Regions from separate parts of the Homo sapiens genome. Here region 1 is linked to region 2. Evidence: fine-mapped expression QTL. Tissue or cell type: whole blood. Region 2 holds a variant in brackets; the other region holds the start of a gene. All regions are shown on one strand. Distances are from middle to middle.

Region 1 (8,000 bases), 46 kb after region 2:
AATCCCAGCTACTCAGGAGGCTGAGGCAGAAGAATCGCTTGAACCTGGGAGGCAGAGGTTGCAGTGAGCCAAGATCGTGCCACTGTACTCCAGCCTGGGCTACAGAGCAAGACTCCGTCTCAAAAAAAAAAAAAAAAAAAATATGGATTATACATGCAAAAATGGACTGGAAGGAAGTTTGTAAGATTTTTAGCCATTTTTCTGAAAATAATGTTAATTATGAGTAATTAAAATTGTCTTCGTCTTTTAAATATTTTTTAATGAACATCTAAATTATCTTTGGTTACCATCTGGCATAGTATGAAGTAAAAAAGAAAACACCTGTATTTTTCGTTAAAAAAAAAAAAAAGCAAAAATATCATCATTTTAAAAACCATGCCTCAAAGTTCATGCCAAAAAGACATAGTTCACACCAAAAAACCAAAACCAAAAACAAAAAACAGTGGCCTTCTGACTAGAAAGAAAACTGGAGGCTAGGCGCGGGGCCTCCATGCCTGTAATCCTAGCACTTAGGGAGGCTGAGGCGGGCAGATCACTGGAGGTCCGAGTTCAAGACCAGCCTGGCCAACATGCCAAAACCCCATCTCTAGTAAAAATATGACAATGTCGTGGAAATAGCCATTGATTCTGGCATAAAAAAATAAAGAGGAAAAAGTAATTATAAAAATGATTTTTATGGCCAGGCCCGGTGGCTCACAGCACTTTGGGAGGTCAAGGGGGATGGATCATAAGGTCAGGAGTTCAAGACCAGCCTGGCCAACGTGGTAAAACCCCGTCTCTATTAAAAATACTGCTCAGGAGGCTGAGGCAGAGAATTGCTTGAACCTGGGAGGTGGAGGTTGCAGTGAGCCGAGATTGCGCCACTGTACTCCAGCCTGGGCGACAGAGCGAAACTCCATCTCAAAAAAAAAAAAAAAGAAAAAGATTTTTAATATTCTTTCACTGAAGGAAATCCATTTCCAATACAACAAAATAATTGTGTATATATATTTTTAAGTATATGATGTCTTTTTCTCAAAAGACACGCCACCACTTTCATCAGAATCTCAGACAGATTCATGTCTTCCAAAAGATTACAAGACCAATGTCCTAATGTTTTAGTTTGTGGTAAGAAAAATATAGTCTATCACCTTATTCCAGGGGTGTAGTTTTTGGCCAATGCATATTTATGCAACAGGATGAAAGTTCAAATAGCACACTTATGCAACAGGATGAAAGTTCAAATAGCACACTTATGCAACAGGATGAAAGTTCAAATACATAAAAATCTATTAAAAATCCTTCAAAGTGGACTAGGGTCCTACGAATCTGCTGAGAAGCCTAGTATCTGACCTATGCATGAATTGATAACTGATTCTGATTTTCTTACAGATATTCCTGAAAGAGGATAGAGCTTGGTGTTGAGAATAAACTGGGCAGTAATGGTGATGAGGTTACATCATGGCCTTACTAGGAAATGTTTTTGCTTTTTTTTTTTTTTTTAACTAAAAACATAGATTTTTTTTTTTTAGTTCATACTGTGCCAGATGTTGGAAACACAGTCGTAACCAAAGATAATTTAGATGTTCATTAAAAAATATTTAAAAGACGAAGACAATTTTAATTACTCATAATTAACATTATTTTCAGAAAAATGGCTAAAAATCTTATAAACTTCCTTCCAGTCCATTTTTGCATATGTAATACTTTTTTTTTTTTTTGATACTGAGTCTTGCTCTGTCGCCCAGGCTGGAGTGCAGCGGCACGATCTTGGCTCACTGAAACCTCTGCCTCCCGGGTTCACGCCATTCTCCTGCCTCAGCCTCCTGAGTAGCTGGGATTACAGGCACACGCCACCATGCCTGGCTAATTTTTGTATTCTTAGTAGAGACGAGGTTTCACCATGTTTTCCCAGGCTAGTCTCGAACTCTTGACCTTGTGCTCTGCCCGCCTCGGCCTCCCAAAGTGCTGGGATTACAGGCATGAGCCACCGTGCCCGGCCCTGCATGTATATATTTTATTAAAAGTAAAATTGGGCCGGGCACGGTGGCTTACGCCTGTAATCCCAGTACTTTGGGAGGCCGAGGCGGGCGGATCACCTGAGGTCGGGAGTTGGAGACCAGCCTGACCAACATATAGAAACCCCATCTCTACTAAAAATACAAAATTAGCCTAGCAAGGTAGTGCGTGCCTGTAATCCCAACTACTCGGGAGGCTGAGGCAGGAGAATCGCTTGAACCCAGGAGGCGGAGGTTGCAGTGAGCCAAGATGGCGCCACTGCACTCCAGCCTGGGCAACAAGAGCGAAACTCCATCTCAAAAAAAAAAAAAAAGTAAAATTGGAATGCTATTAGGTTTAGAATTCTACTTTTCCCAATAATATGGTATGCATTTCTCCAAGTAAGTCTTCAATAGCAAGATATTTATTTATTTATTGAGATGGAATCTCGCTCTGTTGCCCAGGCTGGAGTGCAGTGGCTTGACGTCAGCTCATTGCAACCTCTGCCTCCCAGGTTCAAGCGATTCTTGCGCCTCAACCTCCCAAGTAGCTGGGACTACAGGTGTACGCCACCATGCCTGGTTTGTATTTTTAGTAGAAATGGAGTTTCACCATGTTGGCCAGGCTGGTCTCAAACTCCTGACCTCAGGTTATCTGCCCGCCTCGGCCTCTCAAAGTGCTGGAATTACAGGCGTGAGCCACTGCGCCAGGACCAATAGCAAGATATTTAAACGGAAGCATTATATTTCATTGTTATTGATTTAACTATTTTCCTTATATTGGATTTTTAGGTAATTTCCATTTTTTCACTACTCAAGACTACATCCTTGCATGAAAATCTTTGCTTGACTCCGTTTCCTTAAATTCCTGAAAAAGGAATTACTGTCATAGAGCATAAACATTGTGAAGGTTTTTGGATCTTTTTTTCCAAATTGCCTTCCAGAAAGTTTGTAATAATTTACATTCCTGCCTTCTCATTCCTGCATCAACACTTTAATTTTTCCCAACATTTCAAAATTTTGTTAGAAAAGTTAAATCTTACTGTTTCATATTTTATTACCAATAAAGTTGATTATTTTTTCATATGTTTCTTGCCTGTCTGTAGTTCTTCTTTTGGAACGCTTAGTCCATACCATTAGTCTAATTTTTCTATCAGTGTGTTGGATTTTTTCTTTATTTGTAAGAGCTCTTTATGTATAAGGCTGTTGGCCGAATCTAGTGGCTCAGCCTGTAATCCCAAAACTTTAGGACTCAGAGGCAAGGCAGGAGGATCCCTTGAACCCAGGTGTTCGAGACCAGCGTAGGCAACAGAGTGAGACCCTATCTCAAAACCAACAAACAATTTATCTTATGTTGCAAATATTTTTCTTCATATGCCTTTAAACTTTATATATTTTTTTAATTCAATGAGGATTTACACTTTCATACAGGTAGATTGATTTATGTTCTCCTTTGTGGTTTATTCCCTCACTTATGTGTTTACAAAGGCCTTCCTTCACCCAAGTTAAGGTAAATATTCAGCATATTTCCTTGCTGTGGTTAAGAGATGTGAGAAGATACTATGAGAGACTCACTATGTTCACAACTTTTTCCAGTTAAATGAAGTCTTCCCACGTTTCCTAATCACTCACATTAAGCATATAGAATGGATTAATTTTAAATCTGAATATAAAACTAATTGCACAGCATGTTTCACTGCTCTTCTTACTGCCTACCTGGGGCACAGTCTCTTTGGCCTGAGTGGTCTCTTCAGTTTTTAACGAGTGGCTCCACAATTCCTTAGGAAGAGCTGCTCTCTTCTGTCTCCCTGGTGGTCGTAATTTCGCCCACACCTGCCCCGTCTTTGCTCTGCAGCTCCACACTCCCTCAGCCCCGCCGAGAGCTCCTGGCTCCCGTCTCCAGGTTACCCCAGGTCACCACAGCCACCTCTCTGCACCAGCGGCCCGCTCACGTACCCAGCTCCAGGAGCTCCTTCACGATGGCTTTTCCGATGCCCGTGGCCCCGCCGGTGACGATGGCCACTTGGCCCTGCAGCAAACCAGGCGCCAGGTAGCTCCTGCCCTTAGCCCAGGAGGCCATCCCTGCAGCGGGGTGCCAGAGCAGCTGAGCGCAGGCCCTTCTGGGTCTCAGGGACATTCGAGGCGGGCGGGCGGACAGGGCGGTGCTCGAGCCCACGTGACCACCAGAACCCCGCACCCTCCCCGGCCCGGCCCCGCCCCGCCCGCCGGCCGCGGCAAAGCCGCATCCTCCCGGAGCAGAACCGCTCCCCGCCGGCTGTCCGCAACCTCCGCCAGCGTCGGTCCCTGGGCAGGTGTGGGTGAGACTGCTCGTTCGTTTCTTTAAATTTCGATGCCATTGGGGAGGGTGGAAGGGAAATGCAAAAAAAAAAAAAGAAGAAGAAAGAAACAAGCAGGGTGTGCTCTATTTCAAAAATTCAATCCTCAGGGCTGAAGCTCTCACGATTAATTAAAATTAAATCTCCAGTGCAGCTGGAAAAAGAAAGGCTGCTGCTCGGCGCCCTCGCTGCGCCCGCCTGCCGGGGTCGGACGTCGGCGATGCTGTGGCTCCAGGTGCTGTGTGCCGCTGGCTGGGAAGGGGAGAAAGGGCAGGCTTAGCTGAGGGGGAGAAATGCGGCTTTCAGATCCTTTCATCCTTCGGGAGGGAGCCCGGGAAAGAGAGTGAAGGGGAAGAGGAGATGCGGTTGCAGTTTTCCACAGAACCAAGAGAATAAACGATTTGAAAAAATAAACTCAGGCCCACCTCCGTCTCACCTCCCACTCCCCACCCAAGAATCAAGGGGAAAGATCATCTTTACCAGGTTTGAGACCTGATCCATTTCAGCTGAGCTGCATAGCGAGTCCAGAAGAGGATCTTTCCTTGAAGGGTGCACGCTTCCTGCAAGATGCATCTGTAGGTGTTTGAGATCATGTCCTGTAGTTCATTCCTTGTGCAGGAGGGTGAGCCCGCTGAGGATGGGGAAAATTTCTCGTCTGTGTTATGGTGCCCAGTAACAGTGATTTATTATTCAGATCTGCTCCTTATTTTTCATCTTGCTTCCCGCTCTGAACCCACCAGAGTGAGATTACACCTGGACTGGCCTACTGAGACTTCACCCTAAGAACTTGGTCGAATGTGCCAGTTGCTGTGGTCTTAACAATCCAGATGGGATGCTATTTCTAAGGCTGTTGTCAGAGTGTTGCATTTTCCCCGGACAGGTATTAAAATAATATAAAGGCAAATAAATGCCATCATCCTTTTGTTGGACCTACCACCTAGGATTCACAAAGCCAATTGGAAATGGGTCTGGTTGACAGAGGAATCAGACCATCACTTCCTCCACCAGGTCCCACCCACCAGCGAGGCTGCAGTTCTTGTTGGACAGCTACACTTCCCTGTTGCTCCATCCTCTTGTCCTTCTCTGATCTCTTTTTAGAATCACTTCTCCCTCTATCTTTGTTGCTGACAGATTCAAATCTACACTCGTTAAAGAAAGGAATAAATCTCCTGGTTACCATTTGCTAGATAGTTTATCCAGGAATCACTTAACTCTACTACTTAAGTCAATTCTGTAGTTAGGACCAAATTTTTAAAATTACAACGCCATCACCTCCTTTAAAACAAAGTAAATTCAAACAGGAAAGCTCAAAGTGTTGTTGCAGAAACATATAACTCCTCTTGGTTTGATCCCAATGACAAGGTGTTTTTTTTTAAGGAAAAGAAATATTGATTCAGTTCTGAGGGGTATCTTATTCAAGAGAAGTCCAGACTTTCTTTCTTGTGGGTGGGGACACTTTAAATTCTTTTAAATGATAACTTTATTGAAGATATAACTTAACATGATTTATGCCCTGGTCTGGACCTATAGATTCTTAGAGGTGTGCCAGGGTGGGTCAGTGGGAAGCTGGCTGTGCTGCAGCTTCCGTGTGGCTGCTGAGCGGACTGAGAGTGGGATTCTGATGTCTTCCAGTGAAACAGGGACTGGGGCCTGCAAACCGGTTATGCCTACTGAGGATGACAAGGTGCCATTCCTCAGCTGCAAGGAAGTTGCAGGATGAACAGTCAGAAGGCGATTTTTCATGATCCAGGCAGAACCTGCAATTAAGAGAGCTTTGGGGTCTCTTCAAGCGATCTTTTGTTTAAAATTAGGAGGCATGATCTCTTTGCCTCTGCCTCTGACCTCTGTCAGGGTTTGAAAGTCCACTAATCCGCTAAGTTCCAGGCCAAAAGGCCTGGAAGCAGAGCAATAGATCTGCTGCTTGGAAGCTCTTTGTTTTGAAATTTTAGTTCTGCCTCTGGTTGAGGCATCTCTTCCGAAGGCAACCACGCCATGCTGCACTGACCACTCCTTTGGTTGAATCAAATGCTGCTCTTCCCTGTGCTCTGCGTCACTGCCCTCTTTGTCCTGGGGAAAAAGGCATTCCTGTGGCCAAGGTCCTCCCACACCCCCGAACCTCTCCCCACAGCTCTGTCATACCCCATTAGCAATGACTGCCTTCAGCTTCCCACCCCTCCCCCACCCCATCTGCCTGGTAACTTTATTTTCTCCCCTCTGCAAAGCAGCTGCTAGCTCAGACTGACAGGGGCTTGTGGGATTCTCGACATTTAGACTCCCAGAATCTCAGTGCTGAGAGAATGTCAGTGAAGCATCTGGTCCTGCCCCTACCTTGAAGCAAAACTACCTAGCAATTGTGCCATAACAAGGCATATAAAGGAGCTTATTGATGTCTTTTTATTAAACTTCTCCTTAGTCTCAGGCTTTCACAAAAAATAAGCTACTCCTGAGTTGCTACCACTTCACCCAGTCACTTAAAAAGATTTATCGAGCATCTATTTGTTGGCCTACTTCTATGGTACCACTTCATAGGGCTTGAAGTCTAGTAGAAGAGCTATGCAATAAATAAGTAAAAGAAAAATAAATAATGACAAATGTTGGTAAGCCTTACACAGGAAACAAGCTGTTGTGATAAAGAATAATGAGAGGCAGAGCAGGGAGTCAAGTTTTTAGTTCGGGTGTCAAGAAGGGCTCAGAGGAGGAAACATTTGAACAAGGACTCAAAAAAACAAAAACGGGCACAGGAAGAGGCGGGGTGGAGCAGCAGAGCAGCAAGATAGACAGCAGTTAAGAAGACCTCAAGCATTTGGAAGCATTTGGTGCTCTTGAGGAAGAAATACACAGCCAGTGTGATTGGAGCATAGTACCCCTACTATGGTGGTACAGATGGGGTGGCAGGATGGGGAGGTCCTTAGGCCACATGGACTTCCACATGTATAACAGTAGGAAGTTACAGGAGGATTTTAAGCAGAAAACAGCCTGATTTTCTTTTTTATTTTTATTTATTTATTTGACATGGAGTCTGGCTCTGTATCCCAGGCTGGAGTGCAGTGGCAGCGATCTCGGCTCACTGCAGCCTCTGCCTCCCAGGTTCAAACAATTCTCCTGCCTCAGCCTTCCGAGAAGCTGAGACGACAGGTGCGCGCTGCCACGCCTGACCATCTGATTTTCTTTATGTTTTAAAAAGATGTTTCTGGCTGGGTGGCTCATGCCTGGAATCCCAGCACTTTGGGAGGTGAAACCCCATCTCTACTAAAAATACAAAAATTAGCCGGGTGTGGTGGCACACGCCTGTAATCTCATCTACTCGGTAGGAGAATCAGGTGGGGGAGGTGGGGGTTGCAGGAAGCTGAGATTGTGCCACTGCAGTCCAGCCTGGGTGACAGAGTGAGACTCTGTCTCAAAAAATTAAAAAAATTAAGTAAAAGATGTTGCTTACTGCTGAGTGAGGAATTGATTGGAAGGCAGCAAGAGTGGAAGCTGGAAGATAGGAGCATTTTTTTTAGAACCACAGTTAAGAGACAGTGGCCTCCTAGACCAGAGGGGAAGCAGTGGAGATGGGAAAGTTGGGTGGATGAATTTAAGAATTATCTGGGCCGGGAGCAGTGGCTCACGCCTGTAATCCCAGCACTTTGGGAGGCCAAGGCGGGCGGATCACCTGAGGTTGGGAGTTCGAGACCAGCCTGACCAA
Region 2 (8,263 bases):
AGAAAGAAGGAAAGAAAAGAAGGAAAGAAGGAAGAAAAGAAAGAAAGGAACAAGGAAGGAAGGAAGAAGAAAAGAAAGAAAGAAAGAAAGAAAGAAAGAAAGAAAGAAAGAAAGAGAAAGAAAGAAAGAAAGAAAGGGAAATGAAAAGAATTGGATAAAAGCATCCATTTACCCCAATTCCCCTAATGTCCATACCAGCCTACCTCCACTTCACAATCAATCCCATTGAAACTAATCCAGATTCAATGTCTCACAGCTAAATCTCGCAGCAAGTCTTACCTACCTGAGGACTTTATCTTCCTCCTCATCTTTTACTATAAACTCTAATTGAACCTCTCTACTTCTCCGTATTTTTGTATTTCTTAAATCATCAAGGATTTTTAAAAGGCTTCAGTAAAACCAGAAATAGGCTGTTCCTCTCTTCTTGGTTCATCTGAGAACAGGAAGCCAGACATCTAACAAAATAGCCTTTGATAGACAGCTTTTCATGCAGAAGGTAAAATTACAGGGTAAGAAATTCTAACTTACATCTACTGTGAATCACTTACAGAAATGACTCTTTTTCTTCAAATCCTTGCTATTTAAGTCCATGATAATCATTTGCATTTGAAAAAGCTGACTCTGTTGAGTCATACTTAGAACTACAAACTCTGACTAAACTTGTAACTCAGTCCAGAGAAATGAAAACAAAAGCCAAATGGTCCAAAATATGCAAGAGAAACAAGGAATATTGTTTTTACTTTGCTGATTTGTTTGAGTTTTTTTCCAAATTTACCAACTGGATATAATTTCCCCACTCAAAGCATATGAACTCAGGTACAACAATGCTATAGAATAATTGGATGACATTGTCCATTTCTTGCAACCCTCCGTTGACCCAGTTGGCTTATGCTAGAGCTGACTAACTGGTAATGCTAACCCAGCATGGGAGGCTGACCAGGGGTACAGGGGTCTTCCTAGGGCCTGCAGAGCAGAATCCAGGTCAGAAGGCAATAGCTTTACACCATCAAACATATATTCTATTTGGGACCTGGTCTTCCACTCTCTCTGCCACACTCATGAACCACCATAAACTACAGGAGGCTCAGTGCAAACTCCCTCCTGTTTCTCCCCAGTAAATTTTATATGTAGTCAGCTCACTCTTCCCCATGTTACCCCCATCCAAATAATTCATTTTGGGCTCAATAATTGCTAGTTTTGATGTAGCATACCTTTCTTGAATACGGTTTAGAATCTTCCTGCTGGTTGGTCTTATTTCAATAGATGCCTTCTTTGCTGAAATGAAATCCTTGTAAACAAGGAGTGCAGAAGAAATACCAAAGCAAAAAACTAAAGCTCAAGTTGAAGCTTTGCAACCAGGTCTTGAATCCTAAGAAGGCACTGCTCAGACGGGCTGGTGTTCCACAACCAACCACAATTATTTGAATACAAATAATTCATTCATAATTCATGAGGCCATTTTCATTTTACACATTTTAAACCTTTACACCTTTTAGTTGGGGAACTTCTAAACTTACCCAAGATTGAGAGACTAGTAGAATTAACCATATAATGTATAATATAGCTGCAGACAGATAATGTATAATGTATCTGCCACCCAGCTTAGACAATTATTACCATGTTGCCAATCTCATTTCACCAACCCCCCTTCCTCCATTTTTTTAAGTTGGAATATTTTAAAGTAAATCCTAGAAATCAACATTTCTTAAATAAAAAATAATAACAACTGCCATGCCATTATCACGTTGAATAAAATGACCAGTAATTTTGCATACAAATTCCTCCGCTGTCTCAATGCCTTCACAAGAGCGAGTAAGTGGTAGAAGCTGGGATTCGAACCCAAGCAGTTGGACTCCAGTGCACTCTAAAATCTGTACTTCATGGAAAGAGAGAATCCAACAAGAGCCCTGAAGGAACTGGCAGAAAAGGGCAAAATAAGCAGAGAGAAACAGGATGCCAGGAAGCAGCAAGCAGAAAGGTCAGTAACCTCAGCAAAGGGTGGCCTCAGTCAAGAAGGGGATTTCAAGATATTTCCTATTGCGGAACTGAAGACCTCAAGGAGAACAAGTCTGAAGGCTGCAGACAAGAACAGGTGGTGGGCCTACCTATCTTGGAGTGGGGAGGAGACCTCTGTAAGGCAATGTGAATGCTGATGGCATCAGGACTTGGCAAATCTTAAGACTCTGACTCCCACCAGGCAGAACGCAGGACTGCCTCTCACTAGACTGAGCCACGGCTGCTTGAAAGCTGAAACTAACCCACAGAGGGCCTTGGTTACCATACAAATCAGAAATAGTGTTGTCCAGGATAAGATCCAAAATAGCCTAGAGATTTGGCTGTCTTAAAACATGGGCTCAGTAATCGCTAGTTTTGACGTAGCATACCTTTCCTGAATATGGTTTAGAATCTTCCCGCTGGTTGATCTTATTTCAATAGATGGCTCCTTTGCTGAAATGAAATCCTTGTAAACAAGGAGTGCAGAAGAAATACCAAAGGAAGAAACTAAAGCTCAAGTTGAAGCTTTGCAAGCAGGTCTTGCATCCTAAGAAGCCACTGCCCAGACAGGCTGGTGTTCCAAAACTAACCACAAGGTGGCACTGCTTTGAGCCAAGCCCCAGGTCATGTTAAAAAATGAATGAGATCAATGGTGAAGTTTTACAGTTGCAGAATAGCCAAATGGCAGCCATGAAAAGAAACCCCTTAGACCTCCTGCTACAGGAAACAAAATTGATTGGCTGTGGGTCCCAGCTGCTGCCCCTCTCCATCCATCACTGCCTTCCCCTCGGGCTGCTCCTGGCCTGTGACAAGCACAGCCCTGCTGTCCATCTAGGCTATTCCCTTGGGACAAGGGTGGTTCCCATGGGTGACTTTGCCTTGAGGACTTCCCATCTGCCTGGCCCTCTCTTTCTTGGACTGTACTGCAGTCTGTGATATTTTTTTTTCCTACCCAATTCCCTTCCTCCTCTCTCTCCTTCACAGTTGTCAGAACTTCATTATAGCTCTATTCAGGAGTGGCCCCGTGATGGTGGAGATGGAAAATCTTTCTAATGGGCAGCGTGTGAGAGTGCAACTGGTATCTACAATGGAATGAAAAGTGGCCCGAGATGAGAATATATACAGTGGCCAGGAAACAAGGTCTGGGGTAGAGGATTACGGATGAGCCCAGGGGAGTGGGCGCTCCAGGGGAGTGTCATTTCCGCCTCCCACGTTAATGTCCCCAGAATGCAATCCTCATGGAAGAGGTGTAGAACAACCAAGCAGTCAAGAAAACTCAGCCAGTTGATAGCTGGACTTCATCACCGGCCAGCCCAGAACTGGTGTGACAGGCACAGTGATGGAGGCAGGCTGTAGACGGCCCATTAGCATGGACTCCCTGTTAACCAAGGTCAACGGAGCTGTCACTGCCCCTGCATGTCCAACCTTCCTGCAACACAGATCATTGCTGAGCCCTGAAGTGGCATTGCTCTTTAAGGAGACCAATGGGCCACAGGACGGCCAGTCGACAAGTGGCAGGCTCCAGATGTAATTGCTCCTCTGTTCTGAGAAAATGGATCTGGGTCCTCTAAGTTGTTCCCCTGAGCCAGCGGGCTCTGAAGCTTTGTTGGGAGAGGGTGATGGAGAGACATTGGAGGAGGAAGAGGGTTTTGCTTCCTGACCCGTGCAGTGCAGACTGCTTCACAGGAGTGCTAAGGAGCACCAGCTTCCCAGCACCTCCCTCAGGGGGTTTTGCATCAGAGGCCTCTGGTAGGACACTTCTCTGTACAGTTTTCCCCAGGATGCCAGAGGGCAGGTTTCTAGCAAGTTCCACCAGCAGAGCACCACAGTGACTTCTCTGCCCTCCACTGATTCACAGCCATGCCCTCCCTACTCAATCTGGGTGTCAGCCCCAGGGGTGCTATGGAGGGCTCTTCTTTTTTTTTTTTTTTTCGAGACAGGGTCTTACTCTGTCACCTAGGCTGGAGTGCAATGGTGCAATCTTGGCTCACTGCAATCTCCGCCCTCAGGTTCAAGTGATTCTCCTGCCTTAGCTTCACTAGTAGCTGGGACTACAGACGCCCGCCACCAGGCCGGCTAATTTTTTGTATTTTTCATAGAGACGGGGTTTCACCATGTTGGCCAGGCTGGTCTCAAACTCCTGATCTCAGATGATCTGCCCACCTCAGCCTCCCAAAGTGCCGGGATTCCAGGCATGAGTCACTGCGCCCAGCCAAGGTTCTTCTTTGAGCTCTCAGTCTTAGTCCTAGTGGTGCAGGCTACTCCTGATATCTGCTATTCTCATGTTCAAGTTCTTTTTACTTCCTACTAGCCAGTCCTTCACTACTCCAATCTGCTGTGATAATCACTCTTCACTTTTAACTTGCCCTGTTCAAATTGCTGTGTGGTTTCTGCGTCACTCCTCATAGTGACAGATACCTCTTCCAGGCAAGAGTTTGTCTTTCCTGCCTGCAGGGACTCAGACACCATGACTATCTGGGGGCTATAGAAAGCCTGAACCATAGGCATGGAATCCCATGGGGCATAGCATCCAATCAGGTGACTCACCTCCCAGTGAAGGAGACGAAAGAGTGAGCCCCTGGTTGTGGAACCACTGTGTATCCACACCCCGCACCATCCATAGGCAGCCAGCCTCATAGAGGGCTTGAACAACCAAGACCCAGCTGAAGGGCCAGGATGGAGTGCTTGCTGTCTTCAAAGATGCATGTCCCCAGTAGGTTTGGGACCATGTCTGGGATCCGGTAGATGAAACTGGGAGTGGCCCTGCATTCCATCATTCCCAATGATCTGCTGCAGGATTTAAGGAGAATAGCAGCACTGGAAATCCTGGTGCCAAAGAGGGAGGCTCTTGCCAGGGGAC[A/G]TAAGGTCCCAGTGAGCTACAAACTATGACTGATGCTGGAACTGATCTCTGAACTCCCTTTGTCCAGGCACCAGCAGGAGGAGAGAGAGTTACTTTTACACTGTAGAGAATCCACATGACCCACTGAGCGCCTGCTGGTATTCCTGTGGGCCACTGTAAATGTCAATGCATACTTTCAGCAAGCCTGTCTTAAGAAAGCATCACTTTGCTGCAATCTGAGATGCCTCCTGCCCAATCCTCTCTCCCCTCTCTTTTACAGGGGTCAGCCTTGCAGCATGGTCTGAAGGCCATCGCTGCCTTCTCTGGCTCCCTGCCCTTATCCTTCATGGGCCTGGTACCCAATAAGTGTCATGCAAATCTCATTATGTCTGGGCACCTGCTTTTCAGAGGACCTGAACATAAGCCACAAAGCATAAGATTAGTGTGGGGGAGGTATAATGTTCACAAGGGTCATCTTTATCAACAAACTCTTTTTACATAAATATAGAATTTTCATTTTGTTTCCTGTCTTTCAGTTATATGCCGTGGACATCATGGCCTTATCCTTTATAGCACTCGTGTTCTCTCTCTTTCTCTCAATCTCTCCCTACTGTAAGCTCAGTAAGGACAAGATACATGTGTATTTTTTCACCATTGCATGTCTGACTCCTAGCATAATGCTAAATACATAGTAGGTGCTCCAAATTATTAAGCCTATTCAAGAACAGTCACTCTACAACAAAATTTACTAAGCGTAGTTGCAAAAGTACATTATTGACAGGATACTATTATGATGTACATAAGAGTCCTGGATAATAAATTCATAATTCTAAAAATATAGATAATGACCAGCTGTCCAGTGATAGTCTAAGAAGAAGCTCTAATAAGCAGTTGTACCTAAGTTTAGTGCTACATAGGCAGGTTCTGTCCCTTAAGCAGAAATAACTGGCAACGCTATGGAGATTTAAGGAGTCGATGGCAGTCATTAACACAGGTCATGTGAAAGCAAGCCCTGCCTTTTCCATCTTCTCCACCAACCTGTATTAGGGCCACTTTTCCCTCTAACATGGTTTGTAATTCTCAGTTGTTATGATATTATCAGTTCCAGAAGGCCACTGTTAAAGGGCTATCTGGGAGGAAAATGAAGCTTTCTGATCTTCCCACATTATTAGTATGAGCACAAAATTGAAGGACACACTCACTCTCAGGGGCAATTCTGCACTGGCACAAACCTGACAATGGAGAATAGCTCCTTAAATGCTGCACCCTGGGCACCTCATTAGCCTCTCCCTCGTGCTAGCCCTGCTTGGGAGCATGAGAAAGCTGCAGATTCTGGGTCCCAAACCCCAGAGCTTGGTAACTCACACACTTTAAAATGAGGGTAAATGACAGGCCGGGCGTGGTGGCTCTCACCTGTAATCCCAGCAATTTGGGAGGCCAAAGCGGGCAGATCACTTAAGGTCAGGAGATCAAGACCAGCCTGGCCAATATGGTGAAACACCATCTCTACTAAAAATACAAAAATTGGCCGGGCGTGGTGGTGCACACCTGTCATCCCAGCTACGCAGGAGGCTGAAGCAGCAGAATCACTTGAACCCAGGAGGTGGAGGTTGTGGTGAGCCGAGATTATGCTACTGCACTCCAGCCTGGGTGACAGAGTGAGACTCCATCTTAAAAATAAATAAATAAATAAATAAATAAAGTGAGTGTTAATGATAAAAAAAAGAAAATAGCTACTTCACCTCAGATACTTGAAAGAACTTTGATTAAGACAAAGAATGAACATATTCAATCTGCTAAAGGCATTTCTTCAATAAGGGTCTAACTATCAGACTGGAGCCACGGAAGGCAGAATATGGAACCCTAATACATTTGCATGCAACTGAAATTTTGTTTTTGCCTACAAAAGGAGATACATGGAAAAAAGGGAATACTTTGGACAGAAAATCAAGACACAAATCAGGCACTGCCAAAAATAAATCACATAAAACTTTTTCTTTGAATTAAGAGAATTTATACAAATTTGACTTCATAAACAAAAGAAACTATACATCAATAATTACCATAAGGCATTATTGCTCCTAAAGTATTTGCCACCAAAAATAAGTCATTGTATAATTCTAATTTTAATAATCTTAATTACGACACAATTTAGGTTTATTTTCTACCTTTATAATTTTGTTGTTGTTGTTTGTTTTTGTTTTTTGGGTTTTTTTTGAGATGCAGTCTCACTCTGTAGCCCAGGCTGGACTGCAGTAGCATGATCTCAGCTCACTGCAACCTCTGCTTCCTGGGTTCAAGCGATCCTCCTGCCTCAGCCTCCCAAGTACCTGGGACTACAGGTGTGTGCCACCACACCCGACTAATTTGTGTTTTTGTTTTTGTTGTTTTTCAGTAGAGACAGGGTTTTACCATGTTGGCCAGCCTGGTCTTGAACTCCTGACCTCAACTGACCCGCCTACCTCGGCCTCCCAAAGTGCTGGAATTACAGGCGTGAGCCACTGCGTCTGGCCTCTACCTTTACAATTAAATAATAAAATCTTCTGGGAGTTCATGATCCCTAGAATTATCATTGATTTAAAATTATTCCATTTTTCAAATACTTTTCTTAGAAATAAAAAGTAAAGTCATTAAAATATGTTAATTTCTGTTACTTATACATTTTTAAATCATAGGTTAAAAGACTCTGATTGGGACATAAGACTGTATATATTTCAGGAATAGTTTTTCCATAGATATAATTAATAACACTTAAAAATAAGAAAAATGTTTTCCATACCAACTATAAGCTTTTAAAAAGTACAGAAGCATATCCTCAAGATGTGAAGGCACTGGGGGATGGAGGACACCTTGTTTCCTCAGCTCAGAGCTTAGCTTTCTCCTTAAAGGTCTCCTTCATCTTTTTGACAACAGAAAGGTCCCCTGCTCCCTTGGGCCAGTTGTCATGATCTGTTAAAGAAGTGGAAAGCCTCCTGTCACTTGCAAATCTCATTTGCCCTCTTCACTCCCACCAAATCCTCTTGTTAATTTCCCTGGTTCACACATTTTCTCAGCACCAAAAAATAAATCCTTAGGGCAAACATTTGAGAAAAGACTTCAATTTGAATCTCAGGTCTGCCACACGTTAGCTTTCCTGAATTTGGGCACATGTCTCTTCCTGAGCCTCAGTTTCCTCCTCTATTAAAGGATACAACAATATCTACCTTTTAAAGTTGTGAGGGTTAAATATGACACCATGTGTGCAGTGCTTCGCATACTGTGGATCGTCAATAAATAGTGTCTCCTTAATAATCACAATTTAAAAATAGTGTCCTTACTTTGTACCAGGCACTGCTACTTGCCTCTCCAGCATCCAGGTCCCCATCTCTTCTTTCCAACAGCTTGTTTCCATTTAACGATCTAGAAGGTGCCAGGGAAGCTTGGCACCAA

What was found. PIP is the estimated chance that this variant, and not a neighbour inherited with it, causes the effect.
Region 1: PECR starts here. The variant in region 2 is fine-mapped to the expression of PECR in whole blood (INTERVAL, PIP above 0.99).

Annotation. Positions count from the first base shown.
Region 1 is chr2:216,077,686-216,085,685 of GRCh38, forward strand. PECR (peroxisomal trans-2-enoyl-CoA reductase) reads right to left here and starts at 4,124. Exons shown (of 8, transcript NM_018441.6): 1 at 3,933-4,124. The coding sequence starts at 4,056. It overlaps TMEM169 (transmembrane protein 169), which reads left to right and starts at 4,234. Exons shown (of 3, transcript NM_001142311.2): 1 at 4,234-4,294. RefSeq lists enhancers at 3,726-3,805, 3,836-3,885, 7,010-7,079 and a silencer at 4,076-4,335.
Region 2 is chr2:216,031,578-216,039,840 of GRCh38, forward strand. It overlaps PECR (peroxisomal trans-2-enoyl-CoA reductase), which reads right to left. Exons shown (of 8, transcript NM_018441.6): 8 at 6,811-7,783. The coding sequence ends at 7,698. It also overlaps a transcript of MREG not described here. Among named protein-coding and RNA genes, the nearest start is that of MREG, 22 kb to the left of the region's middle. RefSeq lists an enhancer at 678-907. The variant A/G (reference allele first, on the strand shown) is at 4,856.